7 separate regions of the Homo sapiens genome follow, and regions 1, 2, 3, 4, 6 and 7 are each linked to region 5. A link means that fine-mapping ties the variant in region 5 to the plasma level of a protein whose gene starts in the linked region. Region 5 holds a variant in brackets. A gene starts in each other region. All regions are shown on their forward strands.

Region 1 (4,092 bases), not on the chromosome of region 5:
CTCTGTCTCAAAATAAAATAAAATAAAGAAAGAAGAGGCCTATACCTTCTTCCAAGCCTTGACGGCTCAGCACATACTTCTCTGTTTTCATGCTCAAGCCTAGGTTTAGTAGGCCTGAGTGGCAGTGGGAGATTCAAGTGCTGGGGGAGACCTTTGGCCTCACATTCAGATTCCACCTTGAGTCCCATGATCTCATTGCAAGGTTAGACTTCCATTGTTTAAGGTAAATACCATTTTGATAACTCAGTTACGGCTTTTCATGTATTATTATGCTAGGAGGGAGGCTGAAGAGTGGGAGTGGCCCTGGCTCCTGAACACACTATTCTCTTTCCTGCCTGAAGGCCTCCGCATGTGCCATTCCTGATTCTTGGAATGTTTGTCCCTTGGCCTTTATCATCCTTCAGAGTTCATTATCAAAGCCACCCCTCACAAAGCCCTTCCTCCGCCACCCCATTCAAAAGATCTCTTGTTATTTTCCATCCCAGCCCCTGATTCCTTTTCTGTATAGCACTGTCAAAGTGTTTTCAGGCCAGGTGTGGTGGTTCACGCCTGTAATACAACACTTTTGGAAGGATGAGACAGGAGGATCCCTTGAAGCCAGGAGTTTGAGACCAGCCTGGGCAACATAGCAAGTCCCCTGTCTCCACAAAAAATTTAAAAATTAGCTGGATGTGGTGGCTCACATCTGTAGTCCCAGCTACTTGGGAGGCTGAGGTGGGAGGATCCCTTGAGCCCAGGAGGTCAAGGCTGCAGTGAGCCAAGATCACTCCATTGCACTCCAGCCTGGGCAACAAGAGCAAAACTTCCATCTCAAAAAAAAAAAAAAAAAGAAATAATCTAAAAGTGTTTTCAATAATAATGCATTTATGTTGATTACCTTGTTGGCTATCCTCTACTCGTGTGCCTGCCCCACTCCATTCCCCTTTCTAGAGTCTGTTCACGTAACTCCTCTTCCAGGAAGCCCTCTTTGACTCCCAGGCTTGGTCAGGTGTCTTCTCTGGGTTTCCCCAGGGGCTTCCTTCCTCTCAATTCTGATGCTGCCTGTGCTAAGTATTTGTCTCCATATCTGTCCTGAGAACCTTGGAGCCAGGGCTCGGGGCTGTTTTTGCATGGGCCTATCACCTCCTCCAGGAAGCCCTCCTTGGCCCTCTCTCAGGCTGGATGGGAAAGCTGTCTGGGCTCCCATCATGCCCTGGTTTTCTAGCGACCCAGCCTCTGATCCCTAAGCTTGGCCTTCCCCATCACAGCTTTCATCACTTTGTGCTAAGCTTCCGCTATCACTACTCTGGGCCGTTCCTGTTTGGTGACTCAGGGACCAGTCTGGCATGGCCACCGCTGGGTCCCCAGCATTAAGCCCTGGAGCATGAGCCCAGTGAACTTTGAAATTCAGGAAGGAATTCACAGGAAAGCTGCGGCGAGGCGGGCAGAAAACCACAGGCTTCCAAGAAACGCGTGTCTGCCGCCCCCTCCTCCCACCCTGAGGCCAGTCCTAGAGCGAAGGCCCTCCTCCGACGTCGTCACCAAGCCCAAGGGAAGGGTGGCAGGTGCTCAGCGGGCAGACGCCCCGCCCCGCCCCGCCAGGTTCTGTTGGGGGCGAGGCCCGCGCAAGCCCCGCCTCTTCCCCGGCACCAGGGGCGGGCCCAGGTGCGCCCAGGGCCGGGGAGCGGCCGCGCAGGTGCCTGCCCTTTGCGCCTGCGCCCAGCTCGCCCTGCCTAGCCAGGTGCGCCCCGCCCCCTGCCTGCCCGGCCACCTTCGGGAGCCGCTTCCAATAGGCGTTCGCCATTGGCTCTGGCGACCTCCGCGCGTTGGGAGGTGTAGCGCGGCTCTGAACGCGCTGAGGGCCGTTGAGTGTCGCAGGCGGCGAGGGCGCGAGTGAGGAGCAGACCCAGGCATCGCGCGCCGAGAAGGCCGGGCGTCCCCACACTGAAGGTCCGGAAAGGCGACTTCCGGGGGCTTTGGCACCTGGCGGACCCTCCCGGAGCGTCGGCACCTGAACGCGAGGCGCTCCATTGCGCGTGCGCGTTGAGGGGCTTCCCGCACCTGATCGCGAGACCCCAACGGCTGGTGGCGTCGCCTGCGCGTCTCGGCTGAGCTGGCCATGGCGCAGCTGTGCGGGCTGAGGCGGAGCCGGGCGTTTCTCGCCCTGCTGGGATCGCTGCTCCTCTCTGGGGTCCTGGCGGCCGACCGAGAACGCAGCATCCACGGTGAGGGCCGGGCGGGTAGGCTGGAGGCGGGGCGCAGGGGGCAGAGGCTCGGGGGTCAACGGGGGTCTGAGCAGGGAGAACTGGCGGGGGAGGAAACTGGGGGCTACTTGATGGCGTTCAGCGGGTGTGGTGGAACCAGCCCTGGAGGATTGAGCCTTGAAATGAGGTTTGGGAGCCTTCGACAGCGAAGACGGGCGGAGGAGCGAGGGTTAGGAGAGTTTCCTTCGGGTGGAGGAAGAGTCAAGGGGTATTGACCAAGAAGGCGTGGCACTGCCCCTTCCTGTGGCAAGAACGGGGTGAGGAGCCGAATTGAAGACCAGCCTTCTCCTGGCGGTGGAAAGTTCCATGGCCAAAGCTCAGGGAGAGGCCAGGCCTGTGAGATGGTGGGGGTTGGGTTGGGTGACCTGGTGGCCGTTTTAGACTCGGAAGAAGCCCATCTCACCCCTGCCTCTTTGGAGATTGGACAAGAGCCTCCCCTGAAGTTTTTGTAGTTGAGTTGCAGTAAAGTAGGTGCCCGAGAAGGAGGGAGCAAGAAAGGAAACAAGCTTTGGGGAAGAGGAAGCTCTGCTAAGGCTCGAGAGAGTATTGGCGTTGAGCAGCTGGTGTTGGGGTCTTTGGATTGGCCCTTAGAAGTCGGTGGTGAATAAGGTGATTTAAACTTCTACACTCTTAAGGAAGTGTGGTCTGAAAGGTCTCTTTGAACAAGTGTTGTTATAACCTTAACTGCTTCAGACAAGCACCAGCGTGTTTTGAAAAGAGCTCTCTTGAAAGCAAGAATTCATTGATTCAGCAAAACTTACTGAGGCCCTGCTACGTGTCAGGCACTGGCGCTGGTTATAACAGTTAACTCAGACTAGCTGGGTTCCTGCATTCACAGAGCTAATATTCCAGTGGGAGAGGCAGAGCTAGTGAAGGTTTAAAAAGCACTTGCCATGAGATTAAGTTACTGAGAATTAAATGAACCAGGTGAAGTACACCAACAGGGTGACGTAAGATGTTGGGGGCGGCTTTAGCTCAGGTGGTCGGGGGACGTCTCCGTGAGGAGGGTGACATCTGAGCTCTAACATGAAGAATGAGGCAGTAGCCACACGGAGACCTGGGGGACCAGTGTCCAGTTGCAGGCAATAGAGTACAAAGGCCTTGAAGCTGGAACAAGCTTGGTTGGGTTCAGGGAAAAGACAGAGCCAGCCTGGCTGGAGCAGGCGTGAAGGAGGGGAGGACTGGAGGAGGATGGGAGGTGGGAGAGGTTGGCTGCAGCCAGATGGCCTAGGGCTTTATAGACAGGTGCTGGTGCTTGAACCCGGGAGGCGGATGTTGCAGTGAGCCAAGATCGCGCCACTGCATTCCAGCTTGGGCAACAAGAGTGAAACTCCCATCTCAAAAAAAAAAAAAGAAGGCCGGGTGATGTGGCTCATGCCTGTAATCCTAGAACTTTGGGAGGCCAAGGCGGGCAGATCACTGGAGGCCAGGAGTTCAACACCACCCTAGGCAACATGATGAAACCCCGTCTCTACCAAAAATACAAAAATTAGCTGGGCATGGTGGTGCACACCTGTAGTCCCGGCTACTCGGGAGGCTGAGGCAGGAGAATCGCTTGAAGCCCAGAGGCGGAGGCTGTAGTGAGCTGAGATCAAGCCACTGCACAGCAGCCTGGGCGACACAGCAAGACTCAGTCTCAAAAAAAAAAAAAAGAGCAGGCTAGGTGTGTACCAAGTCATCACCTGTGGTAACTTCTGGGGACTGGTTAATTTCTCTGTGCCCTAGGCAGGAGAAAAAAGTGAATTGGTGGGGAGAGGCTCAGCTGTAGGTGACTGGGAGTCAGGAATGCAGACGTTGATCATTCTTGCAATTCGAACCAGAATTTGGCAGCTCTGCTGGACTTTTTCAG
Region 2 (4,091 bases), not on the chromosome of region 5:
AATCATGTGGATGAAGTTCAGTCATCTCAGCTACCCACTCCATGAATGATGCCCAAGTTCAGGGAGGACTAACCCATTCCTAACATTGTGTAGGGTTGAGGCCACTATAGCAAAGGAGCTCCATCTCTGTGAGTCTAGGCACACAGAAAACACTCAAAAAATGCCGAATGAATGAACTTGCCATCTGTTCTAGGGTCTATTAGGTTGAGCTTTTGGAAGGCTTCTTCTTGGTTTCTAACCTATAACTGTCAGCTTTTACTTAAATACTTAATTTCCTGGATAATATATGGCTCAGTGAAATTTGGGCAATGTTTTCAGTTAAACTAACATTTATGAGCACCTAATAATAGGCGCTGGTGTTACAAAACTGTATAAGACAAAGGCATTGTTGTCAAAAAGTCAATGTAGATCTAAGGGTCTAGTTTTGGGCTCCAATTTTCTTCTCTGTAAAATCAGGGCAGTAAATATTTAAAGTGACTCACTGTAATTAACATCATATTCTCTATGAATGGGTGAGCAGATGCTGCCTCTTACTTTCAGAGAAAATTACTACCCTTGTGCTTCTAAGTATGCTTTAGACTTTACAGAGGTTTTCTAGTCTCTCTTTCCTACCAGGGAAGCTTATCACACTTTTGTTTCAGAACCTAGGATGTCTTCAAGTAGCTGGAAGAGATAAAAGTGGTAGGAAAAGCACTGCTTCACAAGAACACAGCATGCCATAGCTTGCAAAGTACTCTCAGATATGCTAATTCGATCTTCAGCATAAACTGGAAACATAGGCAGGATGTGACGTTTTCTTCATTTTACGGGTGAGAAAGTTATGGCTCTTACCACTAGCCCTTCCTAAGGGAAACAGGGAATGACCTATACATGCATATACAGGGCAGCCCTCCACAGGGCATTTCAGGGACTATCTGGATGCAAGAGGGGCATGCCCCCGAGAATGGTTACTAGCCACCCCTGACTAAAATACTAAAAGCCTTAAAACCCCCTTCTCCTTCTACTTCATACCTTAAACCCTGCAAATCATCTGCTTCAGCTTTATACTTCCAGACCAGTGTATTGCCCCAACAGCAGATATTTCTACAGTAAAGAAATGACACCAACTGCCAAGGAAGATCATGTCTTTAGGGATTACATAATCCCTGCACAGAGGAATCTGAACCTGAAACCAAAGCTGAGCGAGGCGCTGTCACCTCATCTCCATACCTAGTTTTCTGACCTAAAGAATCTTAATGGTGAAAGCTGCATTTCCTTTCACCGACTTCACAACCTTGAACCTTGGGGCTCTTTCAGGGCAGCCATCGAAACCCTGATAAGAAGACTGAGAAACAAACAAAACACTCAAGGTGAGAGTTTGGTATCTTAACCCTTGACCTCTTTGGGAACTTAACGGGAGGAGGGAATGGGTTAAGAAATATGCAGCACCTATAGTCAGGGCCACCCATCCAAAGACACATTAAATATTAACTACACCACTGACTAAAATACTAAATACTGCCAAGCCTTGGAGGAGAGGAAATAAAGAACAGTTCAAGTTCTGGCATCTGGAGATGGTGGGGTGGGGAGAGGGCTCCAGCTCCATTCCAGGTTGGCTTGTCTGTACCTTCTAATCAGACCCAGGTCCCTCTCATCCTCCTCCCACGAACCCCCCACATGTCCTCCAAGAGCTTTGCCTCTCTGCCTACTAGTCAAAGAGGTTTCCTGTCTTTCAATCCAGGTGTCTTTGCTTCTTGTTGACTACCCAGAAATGTGCCTTGGGCTGGAAAATATCCTAAGAAAAATAGCAGAATGACTAAAACTTGCACAGTTTGCATATCTGTCTCCATGAACACATGGGCAAGTTTCTGTGTGTGTTTAGGCAACATTATCATCTTCCCTTTCACCAGTGTGTTTGAGGGAAGGAGCAGGTAGAAATACCCTCTGCATAGCAGAGCTTTGTTAGACACTGCCAGTGGTCTTTATTCCTAAATTCACCATCTAGGGCAGCCCTCAGTCTGTGAGTGTGGGGTGTTGGCTCTGTGGTGTGAGGTGAGCTCAAGCCTAAATCTCCAGTTGCCAGGACTGGAAAACCCATATATTCACTCAGGGCTGCGTGTGCCAGGCCCTTGAGCCTGGCACTGAGGGCTTCCCACTTCCCTCTTCTCTGCAGCAGGAGGAAAAGAGTCAAAGTTAGGGACCAAAGGGTTAAACCCCCCAAGATGGATAATGGAGAGGCAACTTGCTACTCTGACTCGACTCCTACATCTGCCTTCCTTCTGCAGGTAAATCTGCCACACAAACTGCCAACTGGGACACCTGCAGGAAAACAAACAAAGCCACCACCCTGGTCTGCTTCTCTGTCTGTGGACTCTGCCACACTACCTTGGCTTGAGCCCCACTTGGAACTCTAACTAGACTTGACATGCAGCCACGAAATATTCATGTGGGTGAGGCTCGGCACAGCCAGGTAGCTTTCTGTTTGCCAGTCTCTGTGTCTATTAACAGGCTGAGTCAGAAAGTTAATTGAGTAGAATCCAAATAAACTTGACTTTGCAGCTAGATTATCCATGGGTTTTCCAAAGATGAGCTGGTAGCTGAAGTTTTCTCCATGTGCCCCAACCTCATATCCCTTTACAAACAACCTAGTACAGCTCATGCCTAACACACCTGTACACAGAGAGCTCCATTATCACATGAGCATGATCAAACACACACACACATTGCACCCATTATTTAAATAAAGATCGACACCGAGTTGGTAAAGCCACGGGAGAATTTCCTGTTACAGTCGCTATGGAAAACCAAGATACTCTCCCCCATTTTGACTCCCTCTATTTCAACTGTTCTTTTCTAAAATCACAACTCAATTTCAATTGTTCAGAGATGGAAATTTCCAAAACAAATCTATTTTCTTTTTCTTGTTGTTTGCACAATATGCCTATCCAACCTAAAGGGATAAATGAAAAAGAAGGTGCCTCCCAGCCCCAGTCTCCACAAAAACACTACAATCTCAAGTTGCTACCAACCTGATCTGATCCCAGAATGGACTCAGAGAATTGAGGAACAGAGAGGAAATCTCCCTAGCTGGGGTATAGAGGGACACCTCCCCTCCCCTGTAGCTCTGATTTCCCATGAAACCCCTTCCTATTGCTATAGGATAAGCAATAGTTGGTTAGTGATTAACTCACCTCCACTGGGTTGGGGGCTGAAGAGAGAAAAGAAATACCCTTTTGTTTCAAAGGGCAGAGATGGAGACAGAGGCTGCTTCCCCTGCCTCCTACTGTTTTCTTCTCCTTTTGAGCTCCTCCTGACTTACCTAGATAGGTAAATGCTTCATCTGTGCTGCCTGGCCCCCACCCTGCCACTGACTCAGCCAATCCTAGCCTCCCCTCCCTACCTCTCATTCCAGCTGTTTCCTCAGGGAGGGAATGGGAGGGGAATGAGCAGGGTGGTGCTGTTCCCTCTTAGCCAATCATCTCCTACCCTCCCCTTTCCTGTTTAGAGCTAATAAAGAGCTCTTTAAAAAAGGAGGGCTGGAAGGAGGAGGAGCCGGTTTGGGCTGAGACTGGAAGGACAGGTGGCAGGGAGGGAGTAGGCAGAGATAGTATATATATTTAATGTTGATATAAAGGAACGCAGACAGTCCTCTGGGCAGTGTGCTTTTCCATAGGTCTATGTGAAACAGGTTTTTCATCTAGAACTACCTTCTTCCGCTTGGAGCTTAGTTTTCCCCTGAATTCTCTAGGCTAAACTCATTTGTGTTCAGTTTTGCTGCTAGCTTTTCTAGATGTTGAAAGTCACTTTCTTCCCCAAGCCTAATCCTAGCTCATAAGCCTAGCAATTCCATTCATGTCCACTGAAGAAGGTGTCCCCAGGCTAGGGATGCTGTAGTTGGGCCAGTCTCGCCCCAGTGCTTGCCAACAATCTCCTTGGCCTAATTTATTTCTGGGGGAAATAAAACCATTCATCCCCTAAGAGGTCCGTGTCCTGATGAAAGAGTGACTGGACAGCTTGAAAGGAGAGAGCATGCACTCTGTCATTTGGTCCTCTGCTCTCTTTTGGCTGTTCATGGAAGGTGGCAATACATATTATGAAATAAAAACAAAACA
Region 3 (3,998 bases), not on the chromosome of region 5:
AAGTCCCAAGAGCTCTCACTGTTCACTCAAGGGTCCTAGAAGCCCCTAGGCTTCCGCCCCCACCCCTACTCCCATGTAATCAAGAAGAGGACGCTGTAGAAGACCAGAAATGTCCTTAAGCTAAAGTACACTTGATAGGTGATAGGTGGGGGACACTTCCCCACAACCGCCTGGGCCCGGGGCCAAGTCAGTAGGCTGTGCCCCTGGGTAGGAACACCTTTGGGTGGAGGGGACTCCCAAAACAAGGCTGCCTTTAATTGGCCTGAGAGGGAGTGGCAGGAAGGCAGATCAGGGAATGCTCCCAGCTGGACAGGAAGAACTGGTTTAGTATAGCAAGCCCAGCCAAACAGAGGAGAGGACAGCTGGGTACTGAGCCTGGGTTCCCTTCCAAAATATGGGGGTGGTAAGGGGAATGATGGAACAGTCGGGGGAACACCACCCACAATGGGAGGGCTACTAGTCAGAGATCCTGGGGTCCTGGATGCCCTCTACTAACCCAAAGTAGTACCATTTTACCTCTCACATTTGGGAAGTGGGCATAATAGAATCCCCATGTGACAGGTCTTTTTGTGAGGACAAAATGCACCAGATCTGTCATATAAAAAGTACTCTATCACTCCTAACTGCTATTAGCAAAGTCCTTCTCCCTGGGCCTCACTTTTCTCTACCTGCAAAAAGAAAAGGACACGCTGGATCATCTCTTCAGTCCGAGCCAACCGTGACTATGTCTGATTTTTCCAACCACAATCTAGAAAAGAGGGAGGGGACAGGCCAAAGGGGAAGCCCTGTGCCCCAGTTACAGGCAGGAGGTCTGTGACATTAGCCAGGAAGGGGAGAGCTGAGGTCAGGATGAGACTTGACACCTATCTCAGGAAGCAGCTGCCCAGGGCTGATGTCTCCTGCAGCTGATGGGTCACCCAGGCAGGACTGACACAGTCCCCTTCCCCCAAACTACATCCTTCAGAATGCCCCCAGGACACAGCTGACTGCTCAGCACCCTGAAGCACCTGAAGGCTCAGCAGCCCCTGGGAGGAAACTGGCATGTGACTGGGCACACGGTGACCTCAGCAACCTCCTGGGTCCTTTCCTCTTTTTCCCTGTACTGCCTAGGTGGTATCCCTTCGGATGCTTCCCCAGTTGCTTGACCCGACACATCCTTCAGGGCCTAGTTTAGAGCACTGTGCTAGAGGCAGAAGGCTTGGGTCCTCAGCCACTAACATTTTAGGCAAGGTAGCCTTTGGTTTAGGTTAAGTCATCACCTCACTCTGGCCTTGTTTCCTTCCACCTCAGAATTCCTTTGCCTTCCAGCCTAAAATCTCAACCTATTCTAAACCCGTCTTTAGTTACCAACGATGGGACACCTGGAGTAGCACAAAGAGTAGAAGTTAAGCTAAAGCAGAAACTTGAAAGCCTGGCTGCCTAAATTTCAATCTGACTCACCCATTTATTGTGTATTAACTGTGTGACCCTGGGCAAGTTACTTAACCTCTCTAGCCTCAGGACCAGTTTAAGAACAGTACACAGTAAGATTGTTGTTGGAATTAAGCTCCTGGATATACCCATTAGAAAGTTATTAGAGCAATGTCTGGCCCCCCGACAAAGGCGCTCCACGTTTGCAATCATCATGGCATGCCTGGAATTGTGCTGGAAGTATTGCCTAGGGTCTCATTCATTCCTCAAGAAGAGCCTGCAGGCAGAATCAACCTTCCGCTAAGTAAATTCAGAGGAACAGGAGCCCCAAGGCTTTCAAAGAAATTAACATTAATGGTTAAACTGCAAGGACTCACTCGCTCTGAAAACTGGGGCTAAAGGGCACAAAGGGGGCACAAAGCTCAGGCTGTGGGGGACAGATTGCCTTCACCAGTAATTCCCATGCCCCCCAACTTCCCAGATGAGATTGCCCCCCTCCTCCTAAGCCGGCTGCGGGCATGGATAGAGCTTCTGCTGGCCCAGGGACAGCTATGACGGAGGCCAGTGGACAGTGAGAAGGAAAGGTTTCCCTGGGCTGATTGAGGCCTTCTCTCCCCCCTACCCCCTTCACCTCACTCAAGGTGGATGCTTCAATTTTCTTATCTGCAATTGAGAAAAAATGAACACACTTCTTGCAGAAAGCAGAGGCTCAGCTCCTGGCTAAGTGTTGAGTCTAAACCATTCCTCTCCTCTGTCCTCGAAAAGAGCAGAGTCCCCAACTTTCTAGAAACCCTAACGCAGTGTCCCCTCTTGCCCCATTCCCTCAGACCCTTGGTGCAGTATTGGGAAGAGATTCAGAAGGGCAGGACTTTGCCCTAAGTCACAAGTCAATGACAGAGCTGGGGCCAGAACTGAGGTTAGGGCTCAGTTCTCCTTGGTGTGTGAAAGAGGGCCTCGCACAACCCTAAAACCCTCCCCCTTCCGAGTACACGCAGCCCCCCGACCCCCAGGGCCATCTCGGATCCTAAAGCTGTCTGCTCTGGGCGCCCCGAGAGCGAGGAGGGGATTCAGCGCTCCAAGCCTGCCCCAGGGTCACCAGGGAAGGGACGAGGGTGTGGGAGTTGAAGAGTTGACACCGGCTTAGTCACTAACGAGCCCGTAGCCCGCGGCGGGGCTGAGGCCCGGGGAGGCGGGAAGAGCAACAGGCGAGGGGCGCACGGCGCGTGAAGCCATCCCGGAGGCTGGCCCGTGACCCCGGAGCAAAGTTTCCAACAAAGTTTCCCGGGCCTCGGTGTCCGGTTGGGGGTAGCGTACCCCCGATCTGCCCCCCCCCATCCCACGCTCCGACGAACAAAGGAGGCACCGGCCTGCGCCCCCGCTTCGCCCCCAGCCCGGGAACCTCCAAGCACCCACCGACTCGGCGACTCCGCCTACGAAGAACAGCAGCAGCGCGAACAGACGGGCGGGGGCCATGGCACCGCGGACTGGAGAAGGCGCGCAGGCTGCGGCGAGTGGCCCCGGGCGGGCGCGCCACCCATCTTATAGGCGGCCTACCGGCCCCGCCCCGGCCCGCCCCCGCCCCGCCGCCCGCACCCCGCCCGGAATTCCCCAGTGGAAGCGAGGCCTGCGGGGCACTGCGCCCGCCCGCGGAGTTGGAAACCCCAAGGGACCCGCCCTGCCCGAGCCCGCCGGCTCCTACTCAACCCCTAGTCCTACCCTCCGGGAGCTCCAACTCCCTTTATTTATTTGACCCACTGCCAGGCAGGTCCCCAGAGATCACTGCGGCTAACCCCATTTTATAGTTGGGGAAACTAAGGCCCAGGGACGGGAAGGACTTCCCTAGGGTGTTGAGTTTAGACCAGCCTTCATACCGGGTGTGCTCCCCTCTGAAGACACAGAACTTCCCAAATGGGATGTGAACCGTGTTAAGACAGGGGACAGCAAACTATTCTGTAAAGGGCTAAATATTTTAGGTTTTGCGGGCCATACGATCCCTGTGGCAACTATTCAAACTCGAGCGTCGTAGCTCAAAAGCAGCCATAAATACTAAAGGAATGAGGGCAGCTAGGTCCTAATAAAACATTATTTATAGACACCGACATTTGAATTTAATATAATTTTCATGTGTCACGAAATATTATTATTCTTTTGACTTTATTCCCAACCATTTAAACATGCAAAAATCGGCTGGGCTCTATGGCTCACGCCTGTAATCCCAGCACTTTGGGAGGCCGAGGAATAGGAGGATCCCTTGAGCCCAGGAATTGGAGACCAGCCTGGGCAACCATAATGAGACCCCCATCTCTACAAAAAGTTTTTAAAGAAATTAACCAGGCATTGTGGTGCACCCCTGTGGCCCAGCTACTCTGGAGGCTGAGGTGGGAGGACTGCTTGAGCCAGAGAGGTGAAAGTTGCAGTGAGCCATGATCGCTCACTGCACTCCAGCCTGGGTGACCGAGTGAGACCCTGTCTCAAAAATAAATAAATAAATAAATAAATAAATAAATAAATAAATAAATGACATTTTATAATAAAAATGCAGGCCGGATGCAGTGAGTCATGCCTGTAATCCCAGCACTTTGGGAGGC
Region 4 (4,083 bases), not on the chromosome of region 5:
TAAGCACAATTATTCCTGAATATTTGTGTCTTGTGTCCTCAGATCAGAGAATTCTATTACAGGTAACAAGTATGGTCCAGATAACCAGGCAGTCCAAAGGGAGACTGAGGCTTGGCTGACGCTGAAAAACGGTTACAGAAGGACAAGTGCTGGCACAGAGCCTTGGCCACCCATCTCTGCCCCCAAGTGCAATTCATTTTCTTTGAAAGAGGAAAACAGGCAAGGGAGAAAATATATAGAATTGAAAATACATTATGCAAATGTGGCTAGCAAGGATTAAATTGTTAATTTTAGAGAAATAGGAGAAAGATGCCCAAGTTGTGCTGAAGCAAGGAACCAGGACTTTCTTAATAATTAGTTTTGTCAGTCCAGTAGTGTGCAAAGGTTGAGCTGCTTGTCCCCAGGGACAGAAATCCCATAATTTTGAAAGTCTTTTGACCAAGAGCTGGCTCAAAGCAGAATATGTGCAATGCGTTTCTTAACTATTGAAAATCTTGTCACCACGGGATATAGACATGCTAGTCAGACTTCCGTACCATGACAGAAGGTCAAATCTGAAGCAGTAAAAGAGATCACATAAATATTGCCATCTCATTTCCAAGCTAGTCCCCTTAACTATTAAAACACGGTGACCAGATCGCTGCTTCGGGCCTCCTGAACTCCCGCCTCTCCCACCCGGAAAGTACTGACCCAGAGAGGACACACCTTTGCTTCTGCGCAGCCCAACTTCTGCAAGCGCTCAAGAGTTAATTACTCCTTCACCTTCCTGGGGCCTAACAGCGTTACTGGGTCCTGATTATTTATACAGACGAAAAACGATGTTCAAGAGATTTTGACAACTTAAAAAAAAAAAAAAGAATGCGGTGGAAGTCTAAGATTGCCTCCCCTATGACAAAACACAGCCCCGCCGGCCGCCCGGGCCCGACTCCGCCCGCCCGCCCGCCGCAGTTTCGGGGCTGCGGCCCGGGGGACGCGGGCGCGGCAGGGCTGGGGTCTCCTCCGGGAGTCGCGGGGCGCACGGGCCGGGAGGGGCACGCGGGCGGCACCTCGCACCCGAGCGGCTCCCGGGCCCGGCGCCCGCTCACCTGGTGCGTGTTGTTGGCCAGCTTGGCGACGAAGTCCCGGACCCGGCCGCACTCCTCGTCCTCGCCCGGCGCGCTGCGACGCCAACGGCCGCCGCGGGGAAACGCGCCCCCGGCTGCGGCCGCCCGCAGCCCCCAGCTCACCCCGATGGGGCCAGACCAGCGCGGCAGCGGCGCAGCGGGCGGCGGCGGCGCGTCCAGCCGGTCCTGGCTGAGGGTCGACGGCGGCAGCAGCTGCAGGAGGAGGAGGAGGCCGAGGCCATGGGGCCAGCGCGAGAGGCCGTCCGCAGCTCCCCAGGGCCGCTCCATCGCCGCCGAATGCCGCCGACGCCGACACCTGCCGCCCGGCGCGCCCGCCCACCCCCGCCGGCGCGCGCCACACCCCCGAGCCGAGCGCGGCGCTCCTTGGATACGCGCGGCCGGGCCTCTCCGCCCCATAGGCTGGCCGCCTGTCCCTCTTCCCCGGCCCACTCCTCATTGGCTCGCGTCGCCTCCGGCTTCGGGGGTCCTGGATTCGGATGCTAAGATGCGGGACTGATTGGCTGGAACGGGGCAGAGACTGCTGAGGTCAACCCCGCCTCGCCCGGCGTCTCCCGGGCCCGGCTTGTGGAGTTCACGTAGGAGCTTCTCATACCTTCCCGCCGAGCCCCGGGCTCCTGGCGTCGCGACCCCTTGCCGCACCTCTAGCGCCCTCAAGTTGGGGCTGGGTTACGTCCCTCCTGTTCCCCAGAGACACTCCTAAAATTCCTTCGGTGAGGCAGAGCCTGGAAAAACCTACCCAGGAAATCCCTGAGCTTGCTCAGCTGGAAAAGGGGGCTCCATCATGAACCGGGGCTTCGGGTTTTTATAAACCCCGCTCACTGGAGCGCCCATTGTCTGCTAAGCAGCTGCCTTGCTGCAAGAAGGTGAATGCGAACTGATGTGGGCCACATCCTACGGAGACAGACATCAGGACATCCGTGACTCCTGCAAGCCTGAAGAATAGTCTTTCCATACGTTTGGCCTCTCTCACCTTCCTCTTCTGAGGGGAGGTAGGCCAAAGGCGGAATTACTTACAGGTTTTCCAGGACTTCGAATGTAGCTTAGGCATTAGGGGCAGGTAAAAGAGGGGCAAGAGAATGATCCAATGCCTACTGTACACATGATCATTTCCTAGATGCACATTTATTTTACCAAAGTGCCTTAACTCTGCAGTGAGAGCTTCGGACAAGTTTGGTTCCAGTATGTGATGTCCTCTAAATTAGCACCCCGATCCACCTCTAATGAATAAAATAAAACCCCTACGCTGTTCCCTTTACCGCAGAAGCTGCACACACAACTTCTACAACACGTAGCACAGGTAAAACCAGTTCTGAATCCTTAAGCTTACTGACTCCATCCCTTCAGAAAGCTAGAAATTGTTCAGTAGAAAAGGTAGCAAATAGAAAGATACAAAATATGCAAGTCATTACACTCAAAGCAAGTAAAGATTACTTTTAATTATAAACTGGCCATAAACCCAAATGAGGATATAGTCATTGTAGAGCAAAATGATACAATGCACCCAACCCGATATTTACATTAAAATATTTCCAGTCACATTAACTTTCAAACAAAAAGACTTAACGAATTTACAAATTTTTCCAAGACGTGAGAAGTGAAAAATGTTTTTGAATGCCATCTGAGCAGGATAGTAAAATCACTAGAATAGTCTTTTTAAGTTCTCAGTTACTGGACTGAAAAGATAAAGCTGATGAAAATTGGTGAACAATTTGTTCCTTTCCATAACTACTATCAGATTAATTTAAAAAAGATTATTTTTAAATCTATGCCAACTATGGGAGTAGATCACAAGACAGTCAGTTCCAGTAGCATGTGATTAGGTGGGGGGAGGAAAGGGGGTTATAAAGGAATATTTCTTTGTTTGGGTGACACAAAGATGAATGGTCTATTGTCTTACTGTCTGAAAAGAAAAAACAACTCAACAGTGCCACCTCCTGGAGAAATTACCAAATACACTTTTAAACGCTATTAAATTTGTTCCAATTATCTGTACCTTCACTTTTTAGTATGTTGCTTTTAGTTATCACAGGCTTACAGTACTTATATATTTCCTTCTTCAAACTGTATCAGCTTCTGGGACATGGTAACTTGCATATGGCACTGAGAAAATGTTTGAGTGAATATATTTATTATTTCACTTTTTAAATTGGAAACCCTAGGAACTATATTTCATTTTTGTCTAATGAGATTGACATTAAATATAAAAGTGGCACTGTCAGTTCTCCTTTGTGAGATACTGGACATAAGATTTCACCTTATTTGCAGGACTAAAGTAAATTTATCTTATTACTAAAAACCGTACCTTTCTCCAGGAAACATTCTATAGCAGAAAGATAACATAAAGCAATTACACATCATGAAACCATTGCTGTTCGTAGTAAGATCACTTCTTTAACCTAAGAAAGCTTGTTTTAATATTCTACAAAAAAATCAAAGTTCTACCTCTTTGAAGAATGCCAATTATAGAAGGTACGAAATTTACTGTTTTACCAGGTAAAACACAAATATGCTGCCCAGCCAGTGGGAGGGAAAACAACTTAAGCTGAGGCGAACGGACATAGGCTAAGAGCTACTCCTTAGTATTTGGGCATTTTTCCCCCTATGAAATGCATGTGATTCAGAGACACAACTCACCTCTCCCAAAAGCAACATGGGCTTTATCCATTTCTGCATTAACCTAGAGTTAAAAAGGAATATTGTTTATTGTTTGGCTCTCCCCACTAGAAGTTTCACAGGAGCACAGATCATATCTACCATTTGAACAGCTCTCTGCCTGATGGCTAATACATTTCTTGGCATATAGTAGGTAGGTGCTCAATAAATTTGTTACAGGAATAAATGAGATAGGATTTTCAAGGGTATTTTCTATTAGGATTTAATAAAACAAAGTGATCTTTAGAGAAACAAATCTCCCCATCAACATGCTATACTTAATAAGTGTTAAAATCACTAGAAGTCT
Region 5 (4,092 bases):
AAACACTTCGGTTTTGGTTTTGTCTTTCAAAGTCATCTTTTGTGAGCGCCTTCTAGCCGGGCTGCCAGCGGGTAACATATGATTAACACAAGTTTGGAGTCTGTCTGCAGAGCAACTTTATGAAATGCTCAGAAAGCCAGTCTCCTAAGCATAGGAGCCTGTTTGGTGGTGATGGGATGAGGAAGCAGTGGGGGCTTTGGCACCAGAGGCCTGGGCTCAAATCCTGCCTCCATCATTTAGGGGTTGGGCATCTCCATTCCCTTATCTCTGGGTGGCGAGAACTTCCTAAGTTCTTAGTGTTTGGAAGGGACCCCCTCCATAAAGTGAGGTGCCTCTTGGCCACTGCTCAGCCAGTGGGGGCTGTTCCTAACAGTTGCCTCCTCCGATTGCTGGAGTAAGAAATGACACCCTGTCTCCCATTTCTGTGGCACCCCATTCTCAACAGTGATGGTTCTGCCTGTTTTTAGTCACACACACCTGCACACTTCAAAGGACTAAAAATGGACTCAGTTTTCTTTCTTTTTTTTTCTTTTTGAGATGAAGTCTCACTCTATCACCCAGGCTGGAGTGCAGTGGCATCATCTTGGCTCACTGCAACCTCCGCCTCCTGGGTTCAAGCGATTCTTGTGCCTCAGCCTCCCAAGTAGCTGGGACTACAGGCATGTGCCACCACACCCAGCTAATTTTGTATTTTTAGTAGAGGTGGGGTTTCACCAGGCTGGTCTCAAACTCCTGACCTCAAGTGATCCTCCCACCTCAGCCTCCCGAAGTGCTGGGATGACAGGTGTGAGCCACCTCGCCCGGCCTGGACTCAATTTGGATTGCAATGCCCCACAATGGTGACCTCCCTCTTCTCTGTTAATGCATCCTCTTCCCTCTTGCTTAAAAATTTCCCCAGTGCCGTGGCATCTTACCTCCTGCTGAAGTGTGTGCTGATGCTTTGCTGGGGGCTGGACCCCGTCCCTTGGAGCCTGGCCCAGGCCCTGCCTCCCAGTGAAACCCTGGCCGCCTTTCCAACCTCAGAGGCTCTATCTCCTCCCAAACCCTGTAGCCCTTCCAGTTGCTGGTCACTGACTTCCATTAATTGGCCCGGTGGCCTTGCCTGCCAGGGGGACCATGAGGTGAGGGGCCGTGTCCTCCGAGTGGTCTCTTTCTCCAGGGTGCTGGGGACCCAAGAAATGCCTGGTCGTTTCTCATAGGTTGATAAGGAAAATGAGGCCTAGGTAGGGACAGGCAGGATTTCACCTGAATTTACAAGATGATGCAATGGAAGAGTCTTCAGTATATTTTCACGTATTTTAGAATTGAGTTACAACATTCATTTTGGTACTTTCTCTGTGTTCTCCCCATGTGTTAAAAAGCAGCTTAAGGCCGGGCGCGGTGGCTCATGCCTGTAATCCCAGCACTTTGGGAGGTCAAGGCGGGTGGATCACGAGGTCAGGAATTCCAGACCAGCCTGGCCAACATGGTGAAACCCCGTCTCTACTAAAAATACAAAAATTAGCTGGGCGCAGTGGCAGACGCCTGTAATCCCAGCTACTCGGGAGGCTGAGGCAGGGGAATCGCTTGAACCCGAGAGGCGGAGGTTGCAGTGAGCCAAGATTGTGCCATTGCACTCCAGCCTGGGCGGTAGAAGGAGTTTCCAGCTCAAAAAAAAAAAAAAAAATGCAGCTTAAGTGCTGGTTTAGCGCCTGTAATCCCAGCACGTTGGGAGGCTGAGGCGGGAGGATCACTTGAGCCCAGGAGTTTGTGACTAGCCTGGGCAACATAGCAAGAACCCGTCTGTACAAAAAATAAGAAAAATTGGCCAGGTGTGGTGGCGTGCATCTGTAGTCTCAGCTCCTTGGGGGCTGAGGCTGAAGGATCGCTTGAGTCCAGCAGGAGGTCAAGGCTGCAGTGAGCTATGATCAAGCCATTGCACTCCAGTCTGGGTGACAGAGTGAGACCCTGTCTCAAAAAAAAAAAAAAAAAAAAAAAAGGAAACAAGAAAGAAAAAAGCAGCTAAATTCTGCTGGAAGTGTGCAGTAAAGCACAAGTTTTCAGCCATCAACGCAGGGAGCCGTTAATCACGACCCATAATAACCAGAATGTTATTCCACGGTTGCGGTTTGTTTATTTCATCAGAGTTGCGTCTTCACCTATTTCCCTCCCTACTCTTAATTGTTTATCCAAGTTAGTGTTTTCCATTCTTTCACTGAAGGCTCTAAAAATGGTCCCATCAAGAAGTCTGGTAGATAATGGAAGACGAAGTGGACTTTACAGAAAGATGAATTTTCTTCCCTAGAGCTGGAAAACCCTTCAGCGTGTCATGCGTTCCCCAGCCAGGACAGACAAAGCCACGCAATCTGTTTCCTGCAGGCCCAGAGGGGAAGGCTTCCTCCTTGTGGTTAGTGACTTCAAAAGCTGTCCTCACTAGAGCAA[G/A]TCCAACTCTTCCTCTAGTTCTGATGACTTCACGGCAGCCAACTGAGCTGCTGAACGCTGTTTTTTTCTACGCAGAAACCCTCCCGACTTTCACGAGGAGTTGACAGGTTTTCCTCTTCACTCGGGCTCCCTTGTCATCGTTAAACTGAAACTGCTTTCTTGTAGCCAAATTCTGTGGTCCCTTTTCGGCCTCGGCCTCCTTGACCTCTCTGTGTCCCCACCTTGGCTCTCCCACGCCTGCCAGCCGTACCACAGGCCCCGGGTGTGAACCCTCCCTCCGCGGTCATGCAGCCACGCCTCTGCTCAAGCTGTGCCTCCTCCTGGGCGCACCCTCCCTCTCCCATCCTTCAGCCTCTGAAGTCCTGCCCAGCTCCGGTTCCTGTTTCTGTTAGGACGAGGCCCTTCAGATCCTCTCCAGCAGGTGGACTCTGTCCTGCCCCGTACCACCCGCCGCGGGCCACTTTTGGGCCTGCGCCATGTTCCTGCCCTTACCCCGCCCGGTGTTAGCGTCACGTGGGTCCTGATGTCCTCCCTCTCCCAGGCCTCTGCTTATCTGATTGGGGGCTGTGCTTGACTCTGAAACCCGGGCACCTCCTACAGGGCATTTTGCCTGTCACAGGCCTAGCATTCAATACCTATCATATTTTTGAAATATCTGCAGAAATAAAAAGAAATAACTATTTTCTTCTTCAGGAGTTAAGATGCGTGGCCACCAAGTACTTTTCAATACATAAAATATGTTTTCAGCACAGAAAGGCCTTTCACCGCTCTTACTTACATAGTCTGCTTTTGGTATGATGGGGACGGATGAAAAATGAGGACTGTAGGCCTCCGAAGTCAGCTGTTTTGAATTAAAGCAGCGCACGCTTTGAGTCAGGTGAAGCGAGGATGGGGTTTCACCCGTTGAGGATGAATTTGCTGGGTTACTTTAAACTGGAACTGTTCTTTTCAGAAATGAGTGAAGCAGGAAGGGAAAGACGGAGCTTGTCTGGCTGGGTCGGATGACCCCCTTTGCCAGGCCGTCACCCCTCTAGGTTGAGTTAGCTCAGAATAACTTAGCTGTGCTATAGCTTTGCATAATTGCAAGGAGCTTTGTTTCGTTTTATTTTGCAGGGAATTTTTTTCCCCCCTTAGCTCTTCCTCCTGGTGTATTTGTAGAAATCAGCTTCATCATGGTCATTTAACAGTAAGGGCTGGGGGTGGTGGCTCACGCCTGTAATCCCAGCACTTTGGGAGGCCGAAGTGGGAGGATCACTTGAGGTCAGGAGTTCAAGACCAGCCTGGCCAACATGGTGAAACCCCGTCTCTACTAAAAATACAAAAATTAGCCGAATGTGGTGGCACGCACCTGTACTCCCAGCTCCTCGGGAGGCTGAGGCAGGAGAATCACTTGAACCCAGGAGGCGGAGGTTACAGTGAGCCAAGATGGTGCCACTGCACTCCAACCTGGGCAACAGAGCGAGACTCTGTCTCAAAAAAAGAGAAAACAGAACATACTATTTTTGTTGTTTCTGAGGAGTAGGGTTTCTTACCAGGGAACCTGCTTTAAAAAAATGCAGTATGTAGATTCCTTAAGAATAAAGTTAAGCAGCAGCTAACCAAGCACATGGCTAAAAACCCGGCCAAGAGCATTGTAGTATCTGGTTTTGGGGTTGGTGGTGGGGATCCCAT
Region 6 (4,000 bases), not on the chromosome of region 5:
CCAAATGATGCATAAGAATGTCTCCCTACATATTGATGTGCTACATGATGTTTGGGGAAAGAAGTGTGTATTTGCATGAAAAAATGTTTGAGGAATGTTTTACGACACATAGATGCTTTTGACTTATAAGGGCTTGACTCCAGTAATAATGTCAATGTCTCCACCGTAACCACAGATAGTAATATAGCATAAAGATCAATACAGACAGATGACTTCTAGAGACAGAAATGTTCTCATAGTCACAACAGAATAGTTGTAAGCATCAAATCTAGAAGGTTCTCTAGCCTAGAAATGCATGAATGTATAATGCAACAAGTAAGAACGTGAAAGCACTTTGTAAACTCCGATGGTAACCAGCCTTTCTTAAGGTAGCTTTTCCTAGAAATCCATTTAATTGTTGGACTCCTTTGGGCAGTGGAATTCTGATTGTCATTCATTCAGGAAGACTGTATTTCTGTTTTTGGTCCTTTCACCCACCTTTCATCCTTCACATAACTGTACAAAAGTTGAAAGTCACAAAACCATAGAAAAGTCTCAGTTTCCTACTGTAGAATTCTTGTCATTTCAGTAGTCACAGTTAAACTTGTTCTAGGTTTTTCAGATGCTCTTTTCCAGGACTTCATATGTTTTGATATTTTTAAAAATTCTTTCTTTCAACTTTCTGGAATAAGAAAACAAGAGTTTTATTTACTTGGGCTGTTCTTGTTTCCCCCAGGACATCTAAAAACATGTAGTAAGAAGGGGAAGCTGTTACAACCAAGGACCCCTTAACAGAATATTTCACACAGGATCATAGCAGAATCTTTCTGTAGTTGTCCACATTATTTTCTTTTTCAAAAGATCTGTCTTGGATAAAACAGATTATAACATGGGAGTAATTTGGTAACTTACTTTGATTATAAGCCTTGCTTGCTTCGATTTGGGATTTAGGCATCGTTGTCCTTTATTTTCTTTCAGGGTAATACTGTTAAAAGAACATACAAGAGTCTTAAAGTTTAGATGCAAATACATAAACAAAAAAGCCTGCACCATTGTCATCTTCAGCAAGTTCATTACTTACATCACTTCTATTTTGTCACAGTTGTTACTTGGGTACATTATGGAGGCTTTCTCAATATCTGCCACTTTCACTGCTTTTACCCCAGGGCCTATGCAAAGACAGCGTCCTCTTTTGAACATGGGGAAGCCTAGAATAGATCATAGCATTAGTTAGTAATGCATCTGATTGCAACAGATGGCTGTGGTTTATAGCTGGTGGTGAACGTGAGCAGAATTTTCATTAAGGGTAAAGATAGTAATTTGTCAAATAGCACTTAACACAACTGTTACTGGGAAAAGTTAAGTAAGATGTTGATTATTTTCTCATTAAATTAGTAAGCAAATCGCTAACAAATGGGAAGCATGAAGGAAGTTTATTGGAGGTGAAGCTTGTTTTGCCCCCTTGATTTTATCCTCAAATATTTTCCCAGGAAGCTTGTTAACATGATCGCTATATAAAATCTTCTTAACAGACATTTAAAACTGTTGCTAAAGGCTTTTGCCAGATATTCTAGCCAAATCAAAAATTCCATGAAGTTCATAATTTCTAGTTTCAATAATCATCTCTAGTATCTTAAACATGTCCACCATTTCTGTGCTAAAGCTGTAGTAACTTCTAATCTGTGAGATTAAATAAAACTTTATCATGTCTTTTAGGATAAAAGTGGAAGAAAAGACATTTGAAACATTAGAAAAGGAACTTATAGGTTGAGAAATAAAAATTACTGCATACCTTGAACAACTGTAGCACACAATATCACAGCCAAGGCTATAGCCATGCCCTTCACACTCATGTTTGTTTTTTGCTGTTGCTGCTGGTGCTGCTGCTGCTACTTCAGCTTTGCTGCTCTTCTTGGAAGGAGTAGAAATGCTGAACATGAAAGGAAATTGATAATTGGCATATATAGAGCATTTTATACACCAGCAATCCTTTTATGGCACAGGAATTTCCCTCTTTGAGTCATGCACCTTTCCTGCTTCCAAGAGTTTCTGTTTTGTTCTCTTCTAAATGTTACTGTCCCTTCCTATTTGCAGTAGTGTTGAAAGTGATAAGAATGTGAAAGCACTGTGAAAACCCAGATGGTAACCAGCCTTCTTAAGGTAGCTTTTCCTAGAAATCCATTTAATTGTCGGACTACTTTGGGCAGCGGAATTCTGATTGTCATTCATTCAGGAAGACTGTGTTTCTGTTTTTGGTCCTTTCACCCACCCTTCATCCTTCACATATCTATACAAAATAATATTCTGAAAAGCTTTTTTTTATTATCTCACTTTTGCTTTTCAGTCCAAACTCTTATAATAGATAAGGCCTATATTATTTGACACCAGATGACCTTTATTCAATTTCATATTTTTACCTGTAAATGAGTGCCTAAAGAAGTTTCCCTGTGTTTCTGTATTTATGTCCATATTGTTTTGCATTTTCAACAATTTTTACTTTATATATTTTATTTTGTTTTGCTTTATTTTATTTTTAAATTTAATTTAATTTTATTACTTTATTTTATATTTATTTTATTCTGCAAAGCTTTCATTATAGGCAGATGGCAGGGGGCTCAGTCCTTCTTGGCAGCTGCTTTCCTCATGGCAGCCAGGACGTTGCTCAGCTCCTCCTGCCTTCTCTTGGTGCAGATGTTTGTCCCTACCCTTTTCTTGATGAATTTGAGGGCCTGTTTGACCTTGGAGACCTTCAGTAACTCCATGCCACGCCACTCGTTAGGGGTGAAGCCACACACCTCTGGGATCATGTCCCACACAAATTTAGTGAGTTTGGTCAGGCGCCCACAGTGGCTGTGCCTGGGCTTGCTCACATTCTTGGTCACCTTGTGGCCCTTGTTGAGGCCCACAGCTATAGGGTAGTGCAGTGTCATGGCTGCTGCCCTCCAATGGTGGCCATGGTGGAAAGCTACTTTATATATATTTTAGCACTGTTACTTAGTACATGAAGTTGTATGAGTTGTATTAGGGATCATAAAAAAAAGTGATCCTCTTTGCTCATGTGATAGTTTTACCTCTGAGATTCTACTTTGATGTAATTCCTATTTTTTTGTCTTTATCTTTTCCTCTTAAGCTTCCTAAATCTTTGTTTTAAGTGTGTCACTTGTAGATGTTTAAGAAAATCATATCAAAGGAGCTTTCTAATGGGTAAGCTTAATAAAATATATTTACTGTATAACTGGTAATCTGTAATTTTTAAAATGCTTCCTTGCTGATTCTTTATGTTTTCTTTGATTTCTTTCTAACTTTAAATATATTTTATTTAACTTTTTGAAGCCATTTTTGTTTTTTTTAATGAGATGGGTCTCACTCTGTCACCATTCTGGAGTCGAGTGGCACAATCATAGCTCACTGCAGCCATGAACTCCAGGCCTCAAGCAATCCTCCTGCCTTGGTCTCCCAAAGTGCTAGGATTACTGGGATGAGCCACGGTGCTTGGCCTTCCTTAAGTAATTTGAAAGGAATACATTGTTTTACATTTTGATATTAATTCTTAAAATTCTTTAAAAAGATTTTTACCTGAATTTTTCTAATTATTTACATCAACCATCAATAATATTTTTTTAGCTCCTGTCTTTGTAACATGAGAAAATCACTGTAACTTTCTTTCAAGAATTTTCTCCTATTTCCTAGTTTTACCAATAAAAGTTGGTATAATCGGGGAATTTATAGCCAGTTTATTACTTTTAGATTATTATTTTATCTTATTCAACTTCTTTTTTTGAGAATTATCATTTGCATTTTATCTTGAAATTATATATTTATTTAGATATAATCCTGCATTTAAATTCTTTAACAACCATGACTAGTCTTTAAAACCTTTGAAAGTCTTTACAGTAGTCCCCCATTAAATGAGAAATTCTAGAAATAATTCATAAGTTTTAAATTGTGCACTTTTCTGAGTAGCATGATGAAATCTCACATCATCTTGCTCCATCACTTCATCCCATCACATAGACATTTT
Region 7 (4,092 bases), not on the chromosome of region 5:
GCCCCTCTATTCCACGACTGTTCTCAGGCCTACTTGTGTATTTTTACCCAGTATCACTTATTTTTAAATGACAGAAGTTTGGAGCTTCTCAGGCAATGTGATTTTCCTGTGGCCTAAACTGCCTTAGGTAAAGCATCGAGACTAACCCAAAAGGCTATTGCTGGGTCTCTCGGCTCCCTTCCTTATTATCACCAGCAGCCGTACCTTTTCACACACCTCTGCATTTTGCCGTTCCACCCCACCGTCTCTACCAGGACTCAGTCCCATGTGAAGGTGGGTCCTGGGTATGGCAGAGCCTTCCTCATTACCCTCTGCCTCCTCGACCTGCTGTTCCCTCCCTCCTTTCCTGTAGGAGAGCTGCCGCTGTGGGGACAGGTGGGAGTAGGTCAGGAAGCTGGATGGAGGTACACATTTCAAAGTTTTATGTAAAAAATTTGAGTTGGTGGAATTACCAGAACTAGGAGTGAAGCCTTAGCAGGTAGGCCTTTCAGAAATAGTGAAAATGAGTCCCCAAATCTCAATGGTGAATTTTTCTGAGAAATGTTACAGAAACATAAAGTGACAAATTTTTGTCTTTATATTGATAAGATAGATAGATTAGTAGAAATTGAGAAGAGATTGTCCAGGTTTTTTCTGTTGCTTATTTGTATAAGCCCAGTACATTGACGGACTATATTGGGAGTCCCTAAGCAAATGCCTGCAGGGACCAGGCAGTTAATACAGCAAACTTCAGAGGCTCATCTGCTTTAGCCAGTTCTTGCCATGGTATGGTGGAATCATTGTTGCCACATCTGATTTCTCAAGAGAAGCTTTAAAATCCAATTTGTATGTGTGTATGTATGAGTATGTACATGAGAAAGCTTTCAGTTTTAAAATGTTGGCTCAGATTTTTAAAAAGCAGACCAAAGACTTATATTCCACCTCTGCTCTAGACTTAGAGAATCTGTTCAGGATAAAGCTTAAAGAAAAGATGACAATGGAAAAGAGTCATTGGTCAAGTATTAAGTACTGACACTTAGGGTTTCCTGAATATAGTAGTGAGTGCTACTTTAGAAGAGATTCCCTCTAGTTCAAATGCAGTTACAATCTCCAAATACATGCTAGCAACTCACGATTTAAATTCTCTTTGACATAATTTGTATGGTTCAATCTCCCTCATCCTGCTTTTCTTCTTTTTCTTTCTTTCCTTTCCTTTCTTCCTTTCCTTCTCTTTCCCCTCCCCTCCCCTCTTTTTGTTTTTAACAGATGGGGTTTTACTATGTTGCCCAAGCTGGAGTGCAGTGGCAATTCAGAGTGCAGTGGCAATTCACAGTGTGATCATAGCTCACTGCAATCTTGAATTCCTGGCCTGAAGCTATCCTCCAGCCGTAGCCTCCCAAGTAGGTGGGAATACAGGCATGCACCACTGTGCTCAGCTCTGCCCTCCCTTTTTAAAGGTCAGACTGAAGTTTCAGTTTTCTGTATCCATAGAGCTGACTTTGCTCAGGAAATTTACAACTTACCTAATTTGAACGCAGCTGGCCAAGTCTGTATTTCCCTCCAGGAATGTGCACAGTTGTGTTCAGACCGTTTAGCAGGTTGGGGTGTGGAGGAAGACAGATGAATAGTAGGGGCTTTACTCCAGCCTCTAGCTGGGGATTTTCTAAGATACTGTCTTCAGAAAAGGAAACATAGCTCGAAGTTGTACCTACATGGAAGGACCTCATCCTCCAGGTGGCAAAAATTTGTAGTATGCCTGTTAGAATGAGGTTCCTTCCTGAAACTTCTGGGAGATCTAGAATTTAAAGCTATGTCATTCTCTTGTAGGTAATCAGAAATCAATTGGAAATTCCTGCTTGAAGAGATAGATATTCTTGCCCCACCTCAATCCTTCCAGCACAGATTTGGGAGATACCCCCCTTTCCAGTGAAGGCCTAAGTGTCCAGTGCCCCCACTCACCTTCTGAGGCATGTAGGGCCGCACAGACAGCCAAGGCCACGATGGCGAGTCCTCTCTGCTGCATTCCTGCCTGCCCTACTGGCACTGACAGCAACACAAGTGAGGCTGTTCGATCAGGAAATGAGGCTAAAGGTGTCCTTGGGCACAGAGAAAGTGCAGAGGAAAAGTAAGCCAGGTGGCCCCGCCCTGGGAGGTGTTCAGGGTATCTATTTCTCATGTTTCTTTCCTTAAGACCAGGCTCCTCCTCGACTTATTAAGCTCCTAACTTGTGTTCATCCTGCCTGGGGGTCAGGGGATGTCAATGGAGATCTGGCAGCTGGCAGGGTCACTGTGAGGTGGGGTGTGCATCAGAATCATTTGGGGAACATTAAAAAAAATCAATCTAAATGACTCTCCCCTTTCCCTGATTTGTAAACCAGAACTCCCAGGTAGGAGACCAGTCATTTGAATTTTGTAAAAGCTCTATAGGTGATTCTGATGGACACTTATGTTGAGACCCATTGCATAATCAGTTTTTAAGTAGCTTATGGAAACCATGAGTTTCTGGGGACAAGGGTGACAAGTCATAAAAAATGTATCTTTGTGGAAAGATATGGAAGTATTAAACCCCACTTTAGTCTTGGTTCACAGCCAAATTGTTTCCAGTGAAGCTTTTTACAATAGCTTATTTAGGAGAAAGACAGGAAGGGGGGCAATGCCTTGTAGAAAAGAGCCCAAGAGCAGGTGTGAAGAGGCATGAGCGCTAGTGCAGCTTTGCTGCCAATCAGCTTTGTGAATAAAAGCATGGGGTAGCATGAAGATAATTGGATTCTAATTGTTCCTCATCTACTAATAAGTTGTATAACCTCAGGCAACGTACTTAACTTTGCTGTAAATAACAAGTCAGACTAGATGACCTCCAAAGTCATGCCATGCTTCCTCTAGAACTGTGTTGTCCTATGTGGTAGCCGCTAGCCCACATGTGGCTCTTGAGCACTTGAAATATGAGTAGTCCAAACTCAGATGTACTATGGGTATAAAATTCACACTGGATTTCAAAGACTGGGTACAGAAAAAAATATAAAATATCTTGTTAATAATGTTTATACTGTTTATTGATTACATGATAGTATTTTGGACTTTTTGGGTTAAATAAAATATATTATTAAAATTAATTTCACCCATTTCTTTTTATGTTTTCAAATTACTGCTGTGGTTTGAATATTTTTTTCTTCTCCAAAGCTCATGTTGAAAATTAATCCCTAATAGTGCTGGGAGATAGGGCCTAATGGACAATGTTTAGGTTATGATGGCTCCACCCTCATGAATGGATGAATGCTACTATAAAAAGGGCTTGTGGGAATGGGTTGGTACCTTCTGCTCTTCTGCCAGGTGAGTACACAATGCTCCTTCTCTCCAAAAGATGCAGCAAAGTGGCATCATCTTGGAAATAGAAACTGAAATCACTGGAGCCTTGATCTTGGACTTCCCAGCCTCCATAATTGTAAGAGAATACATTTCTGTTATTTATAAATTGCTCAGTCTCGGGTTGTGGTGTTATGATATATATATTGGCTTTTATCCATGGTTCCTGGCTTATAACTCCCATAACCCTTGTTACAGTTTTTTTTTGTTGTTTGTTTGTTTGTTTTTTTTTTGAGACAGAGTCTCGCTTTGTTGCCCAGGCTGGAGTGAGTTTCACCATCTTGGCAAGATGCTGGTCTTGAACTCCTGACCTTGTGATCCACCCGCCTTGGCCTCCCAAAGTGCTGGGATTACAGACATGAGCCACTGTGCCCAGCCCAGTCTTTTTTTTATATTATAATGTTGGGGCACTTTAGGCTTCAGGAACAGGCCTCAGGAAACGGAATCTCTCTCTGACCTTCTGTTTTTCTTTCACCTGCCCAAGGCAGGACTCTAATCTGATTGTGGGTCATAAGATCCTCATTCCAGAAAGGGTTCTGTCCCATACTCTAGAGGAAGGAATGCTACACAGGCCAAGAAAAGCCTGAACAGGCAGGACTTGCTGGGTTTAGATTATGTGCTTTTTGTCTAATCACATTTCTACATGGTTGTTAATCATGCCTATGTAATGAAGCCTTTGTAAAACCCCAAAAGGGCAGAGTTTGGAGAGCTTCTGGATAGCTGAACATGTGGAGGTTCTTAGAGGGTGGC

Alleles and levels. Alleles are on the strand shown, and positions count from the first base shown. The strength of an association depends on the size of the effect and on how common the allele is.
For the plasma level of the protein whose gene starts at base 1,779 in region 1, A is the high allele of the variant in region 5 and G is the other (weak association).
With allele G in place of A in region 5, the plasma level of the protein whose gene starts at base 3,348 in region 2 is higher (weak association).
In carriers of allele A in region 5, the plasma level of the protein whose gene starts at base 2,923 in region 3 tends to be lower than with G alone (weak association).
In carriers of allele G in region 5, the plasma level of the protein whose gene starts at base 1,417 in region 4 tends to be lower than with A alone (moderate association).
For the plasma level of the protein whose gene starts at base 1,915 in region 6, allele G in region 5 goes with a lower level than allele A (moderate association).
As copies of A replace G in region 5, the plasma level of the protein whose gene starts at base 2,077 in region 7 goes down (moderate association).

The links. PIP is the posterior inclusion probability: the model's chance that the variant is causal. The UK Biobank Pharma Proteomics Project read protein levels with antibody pairs (Olink). The fine-mapping took linkage between variants from a reference panel, not from the people measured, so its PIPs are less certain.
Region 1: SPINT2 starts here. The variant in region 5 is fine-mapped to the plasma level of the SPINT2 protein (UK Biobank, PIP above 0.99).
Region 2: C1orf116 starts here. The variant in region 5 is fine-mapped to the plasma level of the C1orf116 protein (UK Biobank, PIP 0.97).
Region 3: SDC4 starts here. The variant in region 5 is fine-mapped to the plasma level of the SDC4 protein (UK Biobank, PIP above 0.99).
Region 4: SORT1 starts here. The variant in region 5 is fine-mapped to the plasma level of the SORT1 protein (UK Biobank, PIP above 0.99).
Region 6: it holds the start of CXCL11, and the variant in region 5 is fine-mapped to the plasma level of the CXCL11 protein (UK Biobank, PIP above 0.99).
Region 7: it holds the start of CCL28, and the variant in region 5 is fine-mapped to the plasma level of the CCL28 protein (UK Biobank, PIP above 0.99).

The regions. Positions count from the first base shown.
Region 1 is chr19:38,262,795-38,266,886 of GRCh38, forward strand. It overlaps SPINT2 (serine peptidase inhibitor, Kunitz type 2), which reads left to right and starts at 1,779. Exons shown (of 7, transcript NM_021102.4): 1 at 1,779-2,204. The coding sequence starts at 2,099. RefSeq lists enhancers at 1-269, 410-1,327 and a silencer at 1,484-1,803.
Region 2 is chr1:207,029,409-207,033,499 of GRCh38, forward strand. It overlaps C1orf116 (chromosome 1 open reading frame 116), which reads right to left and starts at 3,348. Exons shown (of 4, transcript NM_023938.6): 1 at 3,171-3,348.
Region 3 is chr20:45,345,502-45,349,499 of GRCh38, forward strand. SDC4 (syndecan 4) reads right to left here and starts at 2,923. Exons shown (of 5, transcript NM_002999.4): 1 at 2,824-2,923. The coding sequence starts at 2,883.
Region 4 is chr1:109,396,502-109,400,584 of GRCh38, forward strand. It overlaps SORT1 (sortilin 1), which reads right to left and starts at 1,417. Exons shown (of 20, transcript NM_002959.7): 1 at 1,086-1,417. The coding sequence starts at 1,391. PSMA5 (proteasome 20S subunit alpha 5) reads right to left here. Exons shown (of 9, transcript NM_002790.4): 9 at 2,541-4,083. RefSeq lists silencers at 1,194-1,293, 1,304-1,373, 1,414-1,543 and an enhancer at 1,570-2,551.
Region 5 is chr7:101,854,229-101,858,320 of GRCh38, forward strand. The region is part of intron 1 of CUX1 (cut like homeobox 1); the gene reads left to right. Among named protein-coding and RNA genes, the nearest start is that of CUX1, 39 kb to the left of the region's middle. RefSeq lists an enhancer at 2,694-2,823. The variant G/A (reference allele first, on the strand shown) is at 2,422.
Region 6 is chr4:76,034,156-76,038,155 of GRCh38, forward strand. CXCL11 (C-X-C motif chemokine ligand 11) reads right to left here and starts at 1,915. Exons shown (of 4, transcript NM_005409.5): 1 at 1,772-1,915; 2 at 1,061-1,187; 3 at 892-964; 4 at 1-661. The coding sequence starts at 1,832. The coding sequence ends at 638. It also overlaps a transcript of ART3 not described here and the pseudogene RPL36P8.
Region 7 is chr5:43,410,315-43,414,406 of GRCh38, forward strand. It overlaps CCL28 (C-C motif chemokine ligand 28), which reads right to left and starts at 2,077. Exons shown (of 3, transcript NM_148672.3): 1 at 1,939-2,077. The coding sequence starts at 2,002.